Linked DNA regions of Homo sapiens: region 1 is linked to region 2. Evidence: fine-mapped expression QTL. A gene starts in region 2. The other region holds a variant in brackets. All regions are shown on one strand. Distances are between the middles of the regions.

Region 1 (8,320 bases), 25 kb before region 2:
GTCATCTCCTCCAGGGACCCTTCCCTGAGCTCAAAGACGACTCCCCCGACCCCCCCATTACCCTCAAACCCATATACACCCCTACGGGTGCTGGGCTGAGTGCCTTGTTACCAAACGCCCTTTTACCACGAGTGTTCACGCTGTGTTACCCAGGCCTGTGTCCTGGTCTGCAAAGGCAGGGCTGCTGTCCCGGAGCCCCTAGCTTAGCTAAAGGGCCTGGGGTACATGTGAGAGGGCCTCCAAGATCAGAGAAATGGCTGTGGGCTGGTGGTCGATGTCTGGGTTCCGGAAGGGAGTTCCGGTGGGTGGATGGGTGAGCGAGAGGTGCCATATGTGCTCTGTCTGCAGACAGCTGAGGAGAAGATGCCGGTGTGGTATATCATGGACGAGTTCGGTTCGCGGATCCAGCACGCGGACGTGCCCAGCTTCGCCACGGCACCCTTCTTCTACATGCCGCAGCAGGTGGCCTACACGCTGCTGTGGCCCCTGAGGGACCTGGACACTGGCGGTAAGTCCAGCACCTGCCCGCCCTGGAGGAGGGGCCTCAGCCCAGTGTCCCGTCACCCCCTCTGATGGGCACTCATGTCTTGGCACAGAGGAGGTGACCCGAGACTTTGCCTACGGAGAGACGGACCCCCTGATCCGGAAGTGCATGCTGCTGCCCTGGGCCCCCACCGACATGCTGGACCTCAGCTCTTGCACACCCGAGCCGCCCGCCGAGCACTACCAGGTGCAGCCCTCCTCCACCCACCAGGCCTGTCTGCTTGGTAGCTTCCAGAATGTTCTCTGTGCACACACCAAATGTTATCAAACCCCAGCCGGGTGCCAGGCCCTGAGCCAGTTACCGTGGGAGGCATAGAGTTTTGGGAGCCTCTGAGAGACGAGGGGCTCAGAGAGTGAACACAAGCTGCCTGTGGCTGCACGGTGGGGGCTCCAGATCCCAGGGTGCCTGGTGCTGGCATCCGTCCTCAGGGGGTCCACGCTGCTCCCTTGGGAAGGAGGGGGCTGTGCAGTTGGTCTTGGCCATGAGCCCCACTCAGCCCCCTGTCCTCATCTCACCGAGGCATGGAAACACCCTGTGTTCACACATCGCGTGCCTCCCTCCCTCTGCAGGCCTGCGAGTTACCATCATGGTCACTGTTATTGATAACAAAGGTGCTTTCAGTCTTGGTCAGGGCCCCGAGGGACCCAGCTGGCCCACTCGGTAGTGCCTGGCTGGAGGTAAGAGCTCATCCAGGCCCCATACAAGGAGGCTGGCGGGTTAGGGAGTCGGAGTTGTCGAGGCCCCAGTGCCGGGGGAGGAAGAGGAGCCTGTGGGAGCGTAGCCACCTCCAGAACCAGTCAGGGCTGGGTAGGAGGTTCCTACCCTGACCCATCTCTCCTCCTTCCCCTCCTCTCCCATCTGCTGCTGCTTCCGTAGGCTGGAACCAGCCTACAAGGGAGCCTGTGCTTAGTACTTTGTGGGCGTGTGCCACTCAGTTCCTTACAATTTTACAGTTCTGTTTTTATCTTCATTTTACTGAGGATGAGGACATTGAGACACAGAGAGGTTAAGTCATTTGCCAGGGGTCACACAGCAGGGGGAAGAGCTGGAGTCCAGCTGAGGCTGCAGGCTTGCCCCCACGGCGACTGAAGTCATCCTTTTTGCACACCAGGCGCTCACTAAGTGCCTCGGAGGGTTTCGGGAAGGGTTAGACGAGTTGACCCATGTGAGAGTGGGCGCGTGGAGGCTGGGCGTGGGGGCTCATGCCTGTAATCCCAGCACTTTGGGAGGCTGAGGCGGGCGGATCACAAGATCAGGAGATCGAGACCATCCTGGCCAACACGGTGAAACCCCGTCTCTACTAAAAATATAAAAAATTAGCTGGGCGTGGTGGCGGGCACCTGTAGTCCCAGCTACTCGGGAGGCTGAGGCAGGAGAATGGTGTGAACCCAGGAGGCGGAGCTTGCAGTGAGCCGAGATCGCGCCACTGCACTCCAGCCTGAGAAACAGAGCGAGACTCCGTCTCAAAAAAAAAAAAAAAATAGAGCGGGCGTGTGTGGAGTGGTGGCGTGTTTGTGTGGGCGCTGCTGATTGCAGGGGTGGGCTGTGGGTGGGGGGGCCTCCTTTCACTTTCGGTCTAAGTCAGTGGTGATTGAACCAACCATGCCAAAAACAAGGGGCTCAGTCTTGTTGGTTCAAAGGGTGCTTACAAGCCTCCCAGAGCCCCTGCACCAGGAAGGTGCTTAGTACACGTTTGTCTGAAAAAGTGAATGCCTTCGTGGATGCAACTGGAGGGACAAACACTTCCTGGTCTCGGGTTTGTTTGTTAATGGAACATGAACTAAAGTTTGTGTTTTTCCTTGGGAAGCTCTGGGCTGACCAGGAAGAGGAGGAGATACAAGGCCACGCATCCTTGTTTTTTCCCATTTGACCCTTTACAATCAGGTCTGTGCTCTGGGCCCAGGGTTGCCTATGTTGATTAGCTATGGCTGGGTAACAAGTAACTCCAAAACTTAGCACCTTAAAACAGTAAACATTTATTATCTCACACGATTTCTGTGGGACAGGAGTTCAGGAGTGGCTCAACGGGGTGCCTCTGGCCTCAAGTCTCCCTTGAGGTACACAGGCCGCCCGTCGGGCTGTGGACCCGCTTCTGCATGGCATATGTGCATGCCTGCTGTGTTGGTGCTGACTGTTGGCAGCAGGCCTGGGCTCCCTGCCTTGTGGGCCTCTCCATAAGAGTGCTCAGGTGTCCTCAGGATGTGGCACCTGATTTCTCCCAGAGCAAGTGATCCGAGGGAGAGAGCAGAGAGGAAGCCTCAGGCTTCATGGCCTTGTTGCAGAAGCAACCCTGTCCCTTCCACCTTTTTCCTGCTCATTAGAAGCAACTCATTAGGCCCATCCCACCCTCAGAGATGGATGCGGCTCTGCCTTTGGAAGATAGTGTCAAAGAGTTTGTAGGCATGTTTTAATCTTTTTTTTTTTTTAATTTTTTAAAAAAGATAGGGTCTTGCTTTTGTCCAGGCTAGAGTACAGTGGCATGATCCTAGCTAACTGCCATTTCCAATTCCTGGGCTCAGGCAATCCTCCTGCCTCAGCCTCCCGAGTAGCTGGGATTCCAGGCAACTGCTACCAAGCCCCGCTAATTATTCAACTTTTCTGTAGAGACGGGGTCTCACTATGTTGCCCAGGCTGGTCCTACACACCTGGGCTCAGGTACTCCTCCACCTCAGCTTCCCAAAGTGCAGGGATTACTGGCTTGAGCCACCATGTGCAGCCACGTGGGCATGTTTTAAATCATCACACTGCAGAAGCTCCCGACAGCCCTCGTGGCTCCTAGGACAAAGCGGCTCCTCTCAGGAGGGGTTTGGCACCTTCTCGCCCCCTGCGATTTTGAGGTAGCACCGAGAAGATGTGCAACAATGTTTACCTTGTTCTTTTGACACCAAACTAGGACTGTTCGGCATCCGAGGGGCCTGGAGCCCCAGAATCCTGGGGTGAGGGGGGTGGTTAGAGGCTTTGGGGTGTTGGGAGGGAGGAGCAGCCATGCGCCCCTTGAGGCCATAGAACCTGATGCCAGGTGGTGAGGCTTGTGTCCCCTCCTTCTTTTCCTTTTTTTTTTTTTTTTTTTTTTT[TG/G]AGATGTAGTCTCACACTCTCTCCCAGGCTGGAGTGCAGTGGCGCAATCTCGGCTCACTACAACCTCCGCCTCCCGGGTTCAAGCGATTCTCCTGCCTCAGCCTCCCGAGTAGCTGGAATTACAGGCACGCGCCACCATGCCTGGCTAATTTTTATATTCTTAGTAGAGTGGGGATTTTGCCATGTTGGCCAGGCTGGTCTCGAGCTCCTGACATCACGTGATCCACCTGCCTCACCCTCTCAAAGTGCTGGGATTATGGACATGAGCCACCACGGCCGGCCTTTCCCTCCCTTCCTTGACCTCATCTCTACTTCCGGTGTGTTTCCTTTTAGGCCATTCTGGAGGAAAACAAGGAGAAGCTGCCACTTGACATCAACCCCGTGGTGCACCCCCACGGCCACATCTTCAAGTGCGTAGCCCCCCCCCACTGCTTGGGCTGGGACTTGTCCGCAGTCCCCGCCTCCCATGCTTCGTGGTTCCCACAGCCCCAGAACAGTGCTTGGCACGTGGCACGCAGCAAGTCAGCCGCATCCTGTCTGGGCACAGCAGTGACACGTGCAGGGAGTGGAGTTCTTGGGACCCCAGAGAAAATGCCGCAGAAAGTGAGAGAGCGAGCAGGGCTTTCTGGAGATTTTTTTTTTTTTGAGACAGAGTCTGTCTCTGTCACCCAGGCTGGAGTGCAGTGGCACGATCTAAGCTCACTGCAACCTCCACCTCCCAGGTTTCACACCTCACCTATGAGGCCAGGCATAGTGGTTCATGCCTGTAATCCCAGCACTTTGGGAGGCCAAACCAGGCAGATCGCCTGAGATCGGGAGTTCAACACCAGCCTGGCCAGCATGGTGAAAGCCCGTCTCTACTAAAAATACAAAAAAAAAAAAAAAAAAAATTAGTAGGGCATGGTGGCTGGCGCCTGTAATCACAGCTACTCGGGAGGCCAAGGAGGAAGAAGAATCACTTGAAACCTGGGAGGCAGAGCCTGCAGTGAACTGAGATCGGGCCACTGCACTCCAGCCTGGGCTACAGAGCAAGACTCCTTAAAAAAAAATAAAATAAATTCATCTTTGAAAGTTAAAAATAGGAATAGGCCATGGAAATGCTGGCAGTGAGTGGGTAAAGGGCCCCCTGGGCAGAAGCGTTGGCCACCACTGGTCCCCATCCCACCCCTGTCCTCTGGGCACCAAGGGGTCCTGTTACCAACCTTGCATGTCATGGGGCTGCTCCGCTTACCTGGATACGATGCTCATCCAGTCCTGGAAACCGACACTAGCCAGGCCTGTGCATGCCAGCCCTCCCCACAGCAGGGAGCCTTTGCTGGCCAGGAACATGCTGGGCACCCACAACAGGCACCCGGGCTGCCAGTAGGGGCCCCTCCCAGGAGGCTGCAGGTGTGGCTGTTGAGTTAAGGAAAGCCAGGCCGGCAGGTCCAGGCGGGACACCTTGCAGAAGCAGGCACAGGTGAGGACCCAGAGATGCAGAGCAGATTCCACCTCAGCCTTCACAGGAGCCCCTCCCTGAGGCTCCCAGACACTCCCCTTGGCTGCCCAAACCTGGTCTAGCCAAGAACAGGCAGGCTGCTCCACTCTGCCCCCTCCACCGGGCCTGAGGGCTTTCCTCCCTGCTGGCCTCTGCCCCAGCTGGGCAGCCCAGGGGCTCTTGCTGAGACGTGAGTCTTGTGGTGACCTGGCCAGGGCCTAAGGTCCCTCCACCTCCTCTGGGGCAGAGGCCTCACGGAGGCCCTTGGTGTGCCTGTCTGAGATTGGTGGCCCCAGCCTCATCCTCTTGTTTTGCATGTGAGAGGAAAGAACTAGCACATAATAAACACCCAAATTATGCCATTTAATTTTAATGACAAATGTGAGGTGGACGGTGTGGTCCAGTCCTGCGGATGGGGAACCAGGGGTCACAAGGGTACAGGTTGCGCCCCTCCCTCAGCAGATTGGAGGGAGCGGGGTCTGAACCCGGGCTGTCCAGCATCATGACTCGAACCCAGGACTTGCCTCTGCCTCATTAGCTTCAAAACAGGGAAGGGAGTCCCTGAGCCAGGGCTAGTGCTGGAGTCCCGCTTGGACACTTGGGAGCCGGGATCACCCAGCTCGGGCTCTCCCCACAGGGTCTACACGGACGTGCAGCAGGTGGCCAGCAGCCTCACCCACCCGCGCTTCACCCTCACCCAGAGTGAGGCGGACGCCGACATCCTCTTCAACTTCTCACACTTCAAGGACTACAGGTGAGGGCACCTCTGGCCGCAGGGGCCCTCCCAGTCAGGGCTTCTAGGCACTGCCGGCCTCCCCTTGAGCTGGCGCACCTGCCTCCGCCCTGCAGGAAACTCAGCCAGGAGAGGCCAGGCGTGCTGCTGAACCAGTTCCCCTGCGAGAACCTGCTGACTGTCAAGGACTGCCTGGCCTCCATCGCGCGCCGGGCAGGTGGCCCCGAGGGCCCACCCTGGCTGCCCCGAACCTTCAACCTGCGCACTGAGCTGCCCCAGTTTGTCAGCTACTTCCAGCAGCGGGAAAGGTGGTAAGTCCCAGACACGGCATCGGTGTGCTCCATGGCCCTTTTCCCCGGCCCAGCGTCTGTGTCCGCCTGCTCCTCCATGAGCACCCACTGTGGAAACCGTGGTGCAGGAGCCGAGCTGTGGGCCCCGAACGTCACGGCCGTCTTCACGGACCGCAGGACCTCTCCAGGTTTTTGCTGGGGCTGTCCTCTCCACCGCAGCGCAGCTGCCTGGCCTCTGGCAAACCCCTCCTTGTTTCCCATGCCCCTGCCTCTGACAGCTCTCTGGTGCCCCCTCAGCTCCCAAGGAGAAGTGGGCTGCCCTCTTCTGCCTCTGGGTCCTGGGGTGGCACCATCTGGGAACACAGGCCCCAGGCGCCCCCCAGACAGCCCTTCTGCTCCCCAGGGGCGAGGACAACCACTGGATCTGCAAGCCCTGGAACCTGGCGCGCAGCCTGGACACCCACGTCACCAAGAGCCTGCACAGCATCATCCGGCACCGAGAGAGCACCCCCAAGGTGGGCCCCGCAGACCAGGAGCCCCAGGGCTCAGGGCCCTGGCTGGACAGTGAGAGGTGGGGCTAAGGGGACCGAGCATCATGGTCCTTATGGACAGGTCCAGGCTGGGCAGGGTGGCTTACACCTGTAATCTCAGCACTCTGGGAAGTGGAGGAGGATCACTTGAGCCCAGAAGTTTGGAACCAACCTGAGCAACATAGGGAGACCTCGTTTCTACAAGGGAAAAAACTTTAAAAATTATCTGGGCATGTTGGCACACACCTGTAGTCCCAGCTTCTCAGGAGGCTAAGGCAGGAGGATCACTTGAGCCCGGGAGGTTGAGGCTGCAGTGAGCTGTGATCGCGTCACTGCACTCCGCCCTGGGCGACAGAGCAAGACCCAGTCTTTAAAAAAAGAACTGTCCTGGGTGCGTCTAATCGCAAAGTTCCTACCACATAGTGTGCCAGGTATGGCTGCCCAGCAGGGTGAGGTGGCTGAGCCTGGACAAGGAGCCTCTCAGAGCCGTGGTAAAGATTCATAGTGAGGGGACATCCAGAAGCAGTATTGGGATTGCAGGACACAGGATCTGCCTGGACTGTGTACATAGTCAGAGGCTGGCGGGAAATGCATCATGAGGACGATTGTCGTGGAGACTTCAGGCCATGGGATGGGGGTGGATGGAATTATGGGTGAGAATTTATATTTCATTTCAATTAAAAATGGATATAAAGACTTTGCTTCAGGGTGCGGTGGCTCACACCTGTAATCCCAGCACTTTGGGAGGCCAAGGTGGGCGGATCACCTGAGGTCAAGAGTTCGAAACCAGCCTGGCCAACATGGAGAAACCCCTTCTCTACTAAAAATACAGAAATTAGCTGGGGGTGGTGGCGGGCACCTGTAATCCCAGCTACTCAGGAGGCTGAGGCAGGAGAATCGCTTGAACCCGGGAGGCAGAGGTTGCAGTGAGCCAACATTGTGCCACCGCACTCCAGCTTGGGCAACAGAACAAAACTCTGTCTCAAAAAAAAAAAAAAGACTTTGCAGCAACTTAGGCAGGTTTGAAAAGGCAGAAGGAGGAGTAAAGTGCAGCCATGTCTGTGCCCCCTGCGTGGCTTTGTGTGCTCGGGAGCCCCAGGGGGCTCTGTCCTGGCCACCAGCGAGCTTGCACCTGTGTCCTCCAGGTTGTGTCCAAGTACATCGAAAGTCCCGTGTTGTTCCTTCGAGAAGACGTGGGAAAGGTCAAGTTCGACATCCGCTACATCGTGCTGCTGCGGTCAGTGAGGCCCCTACGGTTGTTCGTGTATGATGTGTTCTGGCTGCGGTTCTCCAACCGGTAAGTGGAGGGCCGGCTGGGTCCAGGGTCGGGGAGCTGGGTGACCGGGTGGAGGTAGCGGGTGGGTGATGGGCCCTTTTTGGAATCAGAAAATGTTGTTGGAAGGCACCCTCCATCACTCACCCAGCTAGCGGCCCTTGGAGCCCATCTCCCTTGGTGTTAATTGGCGGTGACTTGCCCTGCCCACCTCAGAGTTCTGGTGTTGCCCACAGTAATGGATGTGAACATTCTTTGTAAAATGGGCACCAACATGAGAACCAGGTGCCATTTTTATGGACCTGCAGAGGCTTCACAGCTAGCACCTCACTCACCTCCACCCCAGCTCAGTGGGGCTGTGGGGCTCCCCCAGCCACACAGACAAGGGAACAGGCTCC
Region 2 (8,320 bases):
TCAGCCACGAGAGCCCCTGGACACTCCACAGGTGAAAATGCCCTGCACGGAGCAGCGCCCCCAAAACAGGGGCAAGATCGGGGCAGGGTAGAGGGCGCAGGACGTAGAGGCAGGAGAAGGTTCCAAGCCTTGCTCAGCTCTGGTTGTGCACAGGCCTCTGGTAGGCAGGGGCCTGCGTGGTGGAGTCCGTGCTCATCCCGACGGTCACCGCCTTGTTCAGTCCCCACAGCAGCCACAGGGGACCAGCTGCTTCTCCCTGAGCCACACGGCCCACTCGGCCTCCATGGTGGACTCGTGACTGGTCCCATTTTCCAGATGAGGAAACTGAGACATGAGAAGTCACAGAACTTTCTAGGTCCGAGTGACTCCAAAACCCACCCCACCCCTCCCTTTGAGCTGGGTGTCTGCCGGGCTGCTCTGGGCCGCGTGACCACTTGCCAGGAGTTGTGTCACCGCCCGTCTCAGCCTCCTTCCTCATCTGAAACAGGGCTCATAGAGCCTGCGGCGCCAGGATTGGACCCGCAGGCCACTCCACCCCACCTCTGAACGGTGCCAGAAGGTTCTCTCAGGGCCAGTAGCATCACTCTCTCCACCTGCCGCGGCAACATCCCAGCCCCCACAGAGCATCGGGCCCTGCAGAATCTGAGCCCTTCCCCACTGAGGGTGGGACCCAGGGTCTCCAGGTCTTGTGAGGCTTCACTCCTGGCCCGAAGACCCCAGACCCATCGCTGCCCCAAGGTATCTCATCTCCTGAGCCTCTGTGTCCCCATCTATGAGGTGGTGGTCGAGCCAGTGGGTTTCAGGGTGTCTTTCTGTTCTTGGAGACCTCCCTATAGGTGACCCAGAAGGCCAGGAACGGTGGCTCACACCTGTAATCTCAGCACTTTGGGAGGCTGAGGCAGGCAGATCACCTCAGGTCAGGAGTTCGAGACCAGCCTGGCCAACATGGTGAGACCCCGTCTCTACTAAAAATAAAAAACTAGCCTGGTGTGGTGGCGCACGTCTGTAATCCCAGCTACTCAGAAGGCTAAGGCAAGAGAATTGCTTGAACCCGAGAGGAGGAGGTTGCAGTGAGCCAAGATTACGCCACTGCACTCCAGCCTGGGCAACAGAGCAAGACTCTGTCTCAAAATAAATAAATAAATAAATAAAGCAAACAAAAAAAAAGAAGGCGACCCAGAAACACAATAAGGAATGTGTCCCTTCTCTGATCCCCACCCCGACCCCCAGCTGCACCCACTCCCCTGAGCCTTGTCTCTCCAACGAAGCCAGCACTGTCCCAGGGACTTGTTTTCAGGCTTTTTAAAAATGATTCATGGCTAATCGTCCTCATCGTAACCTTTGTGTGCATTTTTCATTACAAAAGTAACCAGTGAAACAGCCCACAGGTCTGGAAAAATCCACAGCGAACCTGGCCATCGAGTGGCCTGGGAGAGGGTAGGGTGAGGGTGGGGTATCCAGGGGGAATTGGTTCTGTTAAGAAAGACTACTTCCCTTTCCTTCGAGGTTCGGGGGTTAAACTTTTTTTTAGTAAAAAATAAAGAAACAGCCTGGCCGACATGGTGAAACCCATCTCTACTAAAAATATAAAAATTAGCCAGGCTGAGGCAGGAGAATCACTTCAACTCTGGAGGCGGAGGTTGCAGTGAGCCCAGCTGGAGCCACTGCACTCCAGCCTGGGCAATGGAGCGAGACACCGTCTCAAAAAATATATATATAAATAAAAATAAGAAATTAAGAATGACTTCCCTAGTGGTCTAGTGGTTAAAAAAAAAAATAAAAAAGACTACCGTTTTAAACAGAGAGCACATCCAAGCATTGTTTGCACCATCAAAAGTAAAGAAAACACAAATAAGCCGGGCGCGGTGGCTCACGCCTGTAATCCCAGCACTTTGGGAGGCCGAGGCGGGTGGATCATGAGGTCAGGAGATCGAGACCATCCTGGCTAACAAGGTGAAACCCCGTCTCTACTAAAAATACAAAAAATTAGCCGGGCGCGGTGGCAGGCGCCTGTAGTCCCAGCTACTCGGGAGGCTGAGGCAGGAGAATGGCGTGAACCCGGGAAGCGGAGCTTGCAGTGAGCCGAGATTGCGCCACTGCAGTCCGCAGTCCGGCCTGGGCGACAGAGCGAGACTCCGTCTCAAAAAAAAAAAAAAAAAAAAAAAAAAGAAAACACAAATAAGCCAGGAACAGTGGCTCATGCCTGTAATCCCAGCACTTTGGGAGGCTGAGGTGGGAGGATCGCTTGAGCCCAGGAGTTCTGCAGGAGACTGCAGTGAGCTATGATTGCATCACTGCACTCCAGCCTGCATACCAGAGTGAGACCCTGTCTCAAACAAACAAACAAAAACAAGAAAGGAAGGAAGGAAGGGGAAGAAAGAAAAAAAGAGAAAGAGAAAGGAAAGAAGGAAGGAAGGAAAGAAAGAAAGAAAGAGAAAGAAGAAAGAGAAAGAAGGGGTGGGAAGGGGAGGGGAGGGAGGGAGGAAGGAAGGACGGAAGAAAGGAAGAAAGCAAGCTAAAGTGAAAAGTAGGCTCCCTCCCTGCGAGCCCAAGCCCCTCACCCCAGCTGGAGAACCCGCTGTGAATACTTTCTGGTAGATCCAGCCAGACATCCTGCCTCACGCCAGGCACAAGTGTGTACAGACGACAGGACACAGCACATGTGCACACACACACTCCCAGGAAAGAAAGTGGTCCTCGGGGCACAGTGGAGAAGGCAGGCTGGGATCAGCCTGCACGGGTTCTGGCCCTGGCTCCACCGCGCCAGCTGCGTGACTCTGGACAAAGGCTTCTTTGGCAAGCCTCAGTTTCGCCGAACCTCCCTGTGGGGCTGCCAGCAGCCAGGTGGAGACTCAGGGGCCGCCTTCCCCTGCTGGGCTGAGGCTGGCTCTCCTGTCCTTGCCACACGGCCCCTTTCACCGCCAGTGGAAACCTGCCTCAGGCTGCCCTGTCCCGGGCCCCACCGACTCCACAGAGACGCCGGGCCTCGCCCACTGTTCTGGCAGTAGGCCTTCATGGGCAGGGCTTGCTGTGTGCCAGGCAAGCTGGGCGGCTGCTTCCTGTACACCACCTCCCCTGATATCCTCGCCCTGCCTGAGCCCATTCTGGGACAGCCTCAAGTCCTGTCTCTCCTGCCATCCAGCCCAGGGCACGCTGCTGGTATCCCGTAGCCCTGGCCCCTGGCAGGCTGGCCAGAGGGGCTCCAGGCCCACGCCAGGCCATGGCCTCTGGCAGCTGCCCTGGCCAGCAGCGCGTTCACAGCAGGAAGCCCCCGCTTCTCCTACCTGGGCTCCGGCTTCTTTGCAAGGGGTAGGGGAAGCAGACAGGTCCCAGAGGCTGCTCGGCTCACAGTAAGACCCGTCTAGGCTGCAACGCACCTGAGCCCCGCACTGGGAATCGAGGGCCAGGGGGCCTCTAACCGGCTTTGGGCAAAATAAACTTCCCCGATCTGGACTGTTCTCCACTACGAAACGGGGTGTCTCGGAGATCAAGAGCCCGAGGTCTCCCAGATATTCTGAGACCCTCAAGGGAGTTCCGCCTGGGATTGCCCATCCGCGGAATGGGCAGGAGAGGGAGCGTCGGCCACTCCTGGGACCGCGCTTCCTGCAGGAGAAGCCACGCGGCCAAGGGCTGGGCGTGGCAGGGTTGTCCAAGTTTTCCCTCCCGAACCCCCAGCCGGAGGCGGCCCGCGCTGGAACCCCGGCCGCGGAGGCCCAGACTCTGCTGCCCGCCGCCCCCTGACCCGGTAGCCGAGCCCCAAGTGCTGCCCCGGGTCGCCCCCTCGGGTGTCCAGTCTGCGGCTCCGGCCTCAGTTTCCCTCTGTCCCGCGGCGCTGCCAAGAGTCGCAGCCATGCGGGCCCCCACTTCCCGCTGCCCCCTCCGCGTCCCGTCCTCACTCACCAGCGGCGAGGGCACGCTCCGGGAAGGGCACTGCCTGGCAGGAGTTAGCCAGGCCGCTGTCCCCGCATCCGCCCCGCCCCTCCCAGCCGCCAGGCCCCGCCCCTCTCAGTCGCCCGGCCCCGCCCCGCCCCGCCTGGCAGCCCGGGCACTGGGCCCACTCGCGTCCCCGCGGGACCGGGAGCTCACTCCTCAAAGCCACCTCTCCCGCGGGACGCGCTTCTGCCTCCCCCCGGCCGCGAGCAAGTCTCTCGGCTCCTCCTCCTCCCCATGGTGACCGGTGACGGCCGCCCGGCCAGACCCAACATCTAAAACGTTGCCGTGTGTCCAACGGCGTGTCGTTTGTCGTCTCTTCTAGCCTCACTTTTCCCATCTATAAAATGCAGCAACAAGACCGATCTCCGAGTGGGGAATTACCTCTCCTGAGGCCAAGGCCCTGAGCGTCCTGCTGCCCAGCAGCCTTGGCCCCATTTCCGGAGCACCCCAGTTCCTTGAGCTGTTGACGCAGGGCACGGAGGCAGCGCGCTGCACTCTTAGTCCTGGCCCAGCCACTTTCTGACTGGCTCTCTGGGCCTCCATCTCCTCATCTGTAAAATGGGCACAAAGTCGTGGGACTGATGAGGCCGCAACGCGGTGATGCAGGCAGGACACCCCTCAGATGCTCGGCGCTCAGTGAGGGGAGGCTGCCATCATCACAGCCCAGAGGTGGCCTCCAGCTGCCCAGGTCCACTCCCATGCAGGGTGTGTCCAGCCCCAGGCCCTTGGCACTATGGCTGTCTTGCTGCAGTTCAAGGCTGTCCCAGCTCCCTCCAGACAACTCAGCCTGGCAACGCCCCATCAGCCTGAACCAGCCACGTTGGCCCAAACTGATCCTGCAGGGTCCAAGGAGAACTGTGGCTACTTCTACCCAGACACAGAAGCCAGGAGCCTCCTTGGGGACCAGCCAGGCTGCAGTATGGCTTTCCTAGGACCTGGCATTTTTGCCTTTGTGAGCCTCTTCCTCTATTAAAAAACAAACATACATAAATCTATTTTTTACTGTGTTGGCCTGAAGACAAGGATAACCCAGGCTTGGTTCCATTCTTCATTCATCTTTTTCTTCTGGGTTTCTTTTTTTTTTTTTTTGAGACGGAGTTTCGCTCTTGTCTCCTAGGCTAGAGTACAATGGCACAATCTCGGCTCACTGCAACCTCTGCCTCCTGGGTTCAAGTGATTCTCTCCTCCCTCAGCCTCCCGGTAGCTGGGATTACAGGCGCCTGCCACCATGCCCGGCTAATTTTTGTATTTTTAGTAGAGATGGGGTTTCACCATGTTGGCCAGGCTAGTCTCGAACTCCTGACCTGAAGTGATCCACTGCCTCGGCCTCCTAAAGTGCTAGGATTACAGGCGTGAGCCACCGCACCTGGCAGCTTTGTTTTTTTTTTTTTTTTTCTTTTTTAAAATTCCTTCTGGCCAGGCACGGTGGCTCATGCCTGTAATCCCAGCACTTTGGGAGGCCGAGGTGGGTGGATCACTAGGTCAGGAGTTCGAGACCAGCCTGGCCAACATGGTGAAACCCCATCTCTACTAAAAATACAAAAATTAGCTGGGCATGGTGGTGTGTGCCTGTAATCCCAGCTACTTGGAAGGCTAAGGCAGGAGAATCTCTTGAACCCAGGAGGCAGAGGTTGCAGTGAGCTGAGACGGTGCCACTGCACTCCAGCTTGGTGACAGAGCGAGACTCCGTCTCAAAAAAAAAAAAAAAAAATCCCTTCTTAGCCGGGCGTGGTGGCTCACACCTGTAATCCCAGCACTTTGTGAGGCCGAGGCCGGTGGATCACCTGAGGTCAGCAGTTCGCCACCAGCCTAACCAACATGGTGAAACCCAGTCTCTACTAAAAATACAAAAATTAGCTGGGCATGGTGGCAGGCGCCTGTAATCCCAGCTACTCAGGAGGCTGACACAGGAGAATCGCTTGAACCGGGAGGTGGAGGTTTCAGTGAGCCAAGATCACGCCATTGCACTCCAGCTTGGGTGACACAGTGAGACTCTTTCTCAAAAAAACAAAACAAAAAATAAAATAAAATAAAAATAAGACACACATGTGGCTGGTTGCAGTGGCTCACGCCTGTAATCCTAGCACTTCGGGAGGCCGAGGCAGGCAGATCACTTCAGGTCAGGAGTTGGAGACCAACCTGGCCAACACGGTGAAACCCCATCTCTACTAAAAATACAAAAATTAGCTGGGCGTTGTGGCGGGCACCTTTAATCCCAGCTACTCGGGAGGCTGAAGCATGAGAATCACTTTAACCCGGGAGGTGGAGGCTGCAGTGAGTCGTGATCACACCTCTGCACTCCAGCCTGGGTGATAAAGCAAAACTCAATTTAAAAAAAAAAAAAAAAACCACACACGTGTACACATTACAACAATAATACCAGGTGTGCCCATTCCCCAGTTATGACCAGAACATTACGAGAGTCCTAGGAGCGCCCTGGTGACCTCCCCAGCGATTCCTCCCCTCCCCAGAGATCACCTTTACTTTGACTTGGGTTGATCACGCCCTTGCTTTCCTTTAGGGTTTTATGAATCCCACCCGGGTGTGTTTCCCTGAGTACTATGTGTGCAGAGAGGCAGCACACCCCCAGCTGGGGCAGAACAGGCACCATGGCCAGGCCAGAAGACTCCCGGGAAGATAAACTCAGCTGAGCGCCTGGGGTACAGGCTGGGCCCGGCCTCTGTGGGCACTGACAAGAGGCCCCTCTGGGGCAGGCAGAGGGCATGGTTGTGGGTGGGGCTCCCCTGTGAGGACGTTGAGCACAGCTGTGGCATGCGCATTCAGCAGGAAATGGTCAGGGGCATGAGCTGTTCTGTCTCTTGCTTCTGAGCTCACAGTGCCCTGAGGAGTAGGGTGCTCAGACCTCAGGAGCAAGGTGAGGCCTGTCAGGTGAGCCATGTGTCCTCAGCAGACCCAGGCAGCAGGGCGAGAACAGGGCTTCCTCAGCCTGTGATAGGGACCAGTCAGGTGCAGGCAAGATTCTGGGCCAGCGTCAGGTGCAATGGCTCAAGCCTGTAATCTCAGCACTTTGGGAGGCCGAGGTGGGCGGATCACGAGGTCAGGAGATCAAGACAATCCTGGCTAACACGGTGAAACCCCGTCTCTACTAAAAATACAAAAAAATAGCAGGGTGTGGTGGCGGGCACCTGTAATCCCAGCTACTCGGGAGGCTGAGGCAGGAGAATGCTTGAACCCGGGAGGTGGAGGTTGCAGTGAGCCGAGATCATGCCACTGCACTCCAGCCTGGGCAACAGAGTGAGACTCTGTCTCAAAAAAAAAAAAAGAATCTGGGCCAAGCTTGTGGGGCATTCTGTACCTAAATGAGCAGCATGGCAGTAGGGATGTTGGTAATGCCAGCTCTCAACACATCTCAAGTCACGCTGCTCCCCGCTGGACAGGCTGCACAGGTCCAGTACACACACCATGCCCGGGTCTTTCTTCACCACCTCCGCCCCCTCCTGCATGGGTCCTTATTTCCTGGATTTCACATCTTCCTCTTTCTTGGTCCCCCCTTGCTTGTGTTGAGCCTATCCTCCAGGAGTTCTTGAGAAAGACTGCCCGGAAGGTAACATTGCTGAATTCTTGCATCCTACCCCATAGATGGCTGATGCTTGGCTGAGCTGCAGATCGTTGTCCTTCAGAATCATGAAGAGATGCTGTTGGCCAGCTGCCACACTGCGGTTGAGCAGGCTAAAGCCATTCTGTTTCGGAAGTCTTTGGTTGTTTTTTGTTTTGTTTTTATTTTTTTGTAGACACAGGGTCGCGCTATGTTGCTCAGACAAGTTTCCAACTCCTGGGCTCAAGCAATCCTGCTCCGGCCACGCTGTGGATCCTTTATATGTAACCGATTTTGTTCTTCCTGGAAAGTTTTTAAGATTTTGGGCCCCAGAGTTCTGCAGTTTCACACTGATATTCCCCTATGTGGGACTAATTTTTTTTTTTTTTTTTTTTTTTGAGACCATCTCACTCTGTAATCCAGGCTGGAGTGCAGTGGTACGATCTCGGCTCACTGCAACCTCTGCCTCCCGGGCTCAAGCAATTCTCCCTCAGCCTCCCGAGTACCTGGGACTACAGGCGAGCTCCAACACACCCAGCTTCATTTCCTCCACTGTGCCTGCACTCAACAGGCACTTTCCCGCTGGAAGCTCATTCTTTACTTTTCAGAAGTTGGATTATTTCTTTGATTTCCTTCCCTCTATTTTCTCACTTCTCTTTCTTTTCAAATTTATGTTGTGCAGCAATCACTTCCTTTCTGGAACTCCTATTACTCAGAATGTAGGGCCTCTAGGGCTGTTTTTCTAACTTCCTTTTTCTCTCTCTCTTTTTTTTTTTTTTTTTTTTTTTTTGAGACAGAGTCTCACTCTATTGCCCAGGCTGGAGTGCAGTG

Evidence for each region. PIP is the estimated chance that this variant, and not a neighbour inherited with it, causes the effect.
Region 1: its variant is fine-mapped to the expression of TSPO in whole blood (INTERVAL, PIP above 0.99).

Annotation. Positions count from the first base shown.
Region 1 is chr22:43,172,029-43,180,348 of GRCh38, reverse strand. It overlaps TTLL12 (tubulin tyrosine ligase like 12), which reads left to right. Exons shown (of 14, transcript NM_015140.4): 4 at 349-508; 5 at 597-730; 6 at 3,953-4,029; 7 at 5,734-5,850; 8 at 5,946-6,140; 9 at 6,523-6,634; 10 at 7,795-7,946. Among named protein-coding and RNA genes, the nearest start is that of TTLL12, 11 kb to the left of the region's middle. The variant TG/G (reference allele first, on the strand shown) is at 3,619.
Region 2 is chr22:43,147,185-43,155,504 of GRCh38, reverse strand. TSPO (translocator protein) reads right to left here and starts at 3,946. Exons shown (of 4, transcript NM_000714.6): 1 at 3,901-3,946. RefSeq lists enhancers at 3,254-3,353, 7,404-7,613 and a silencer at 3,975-4,194.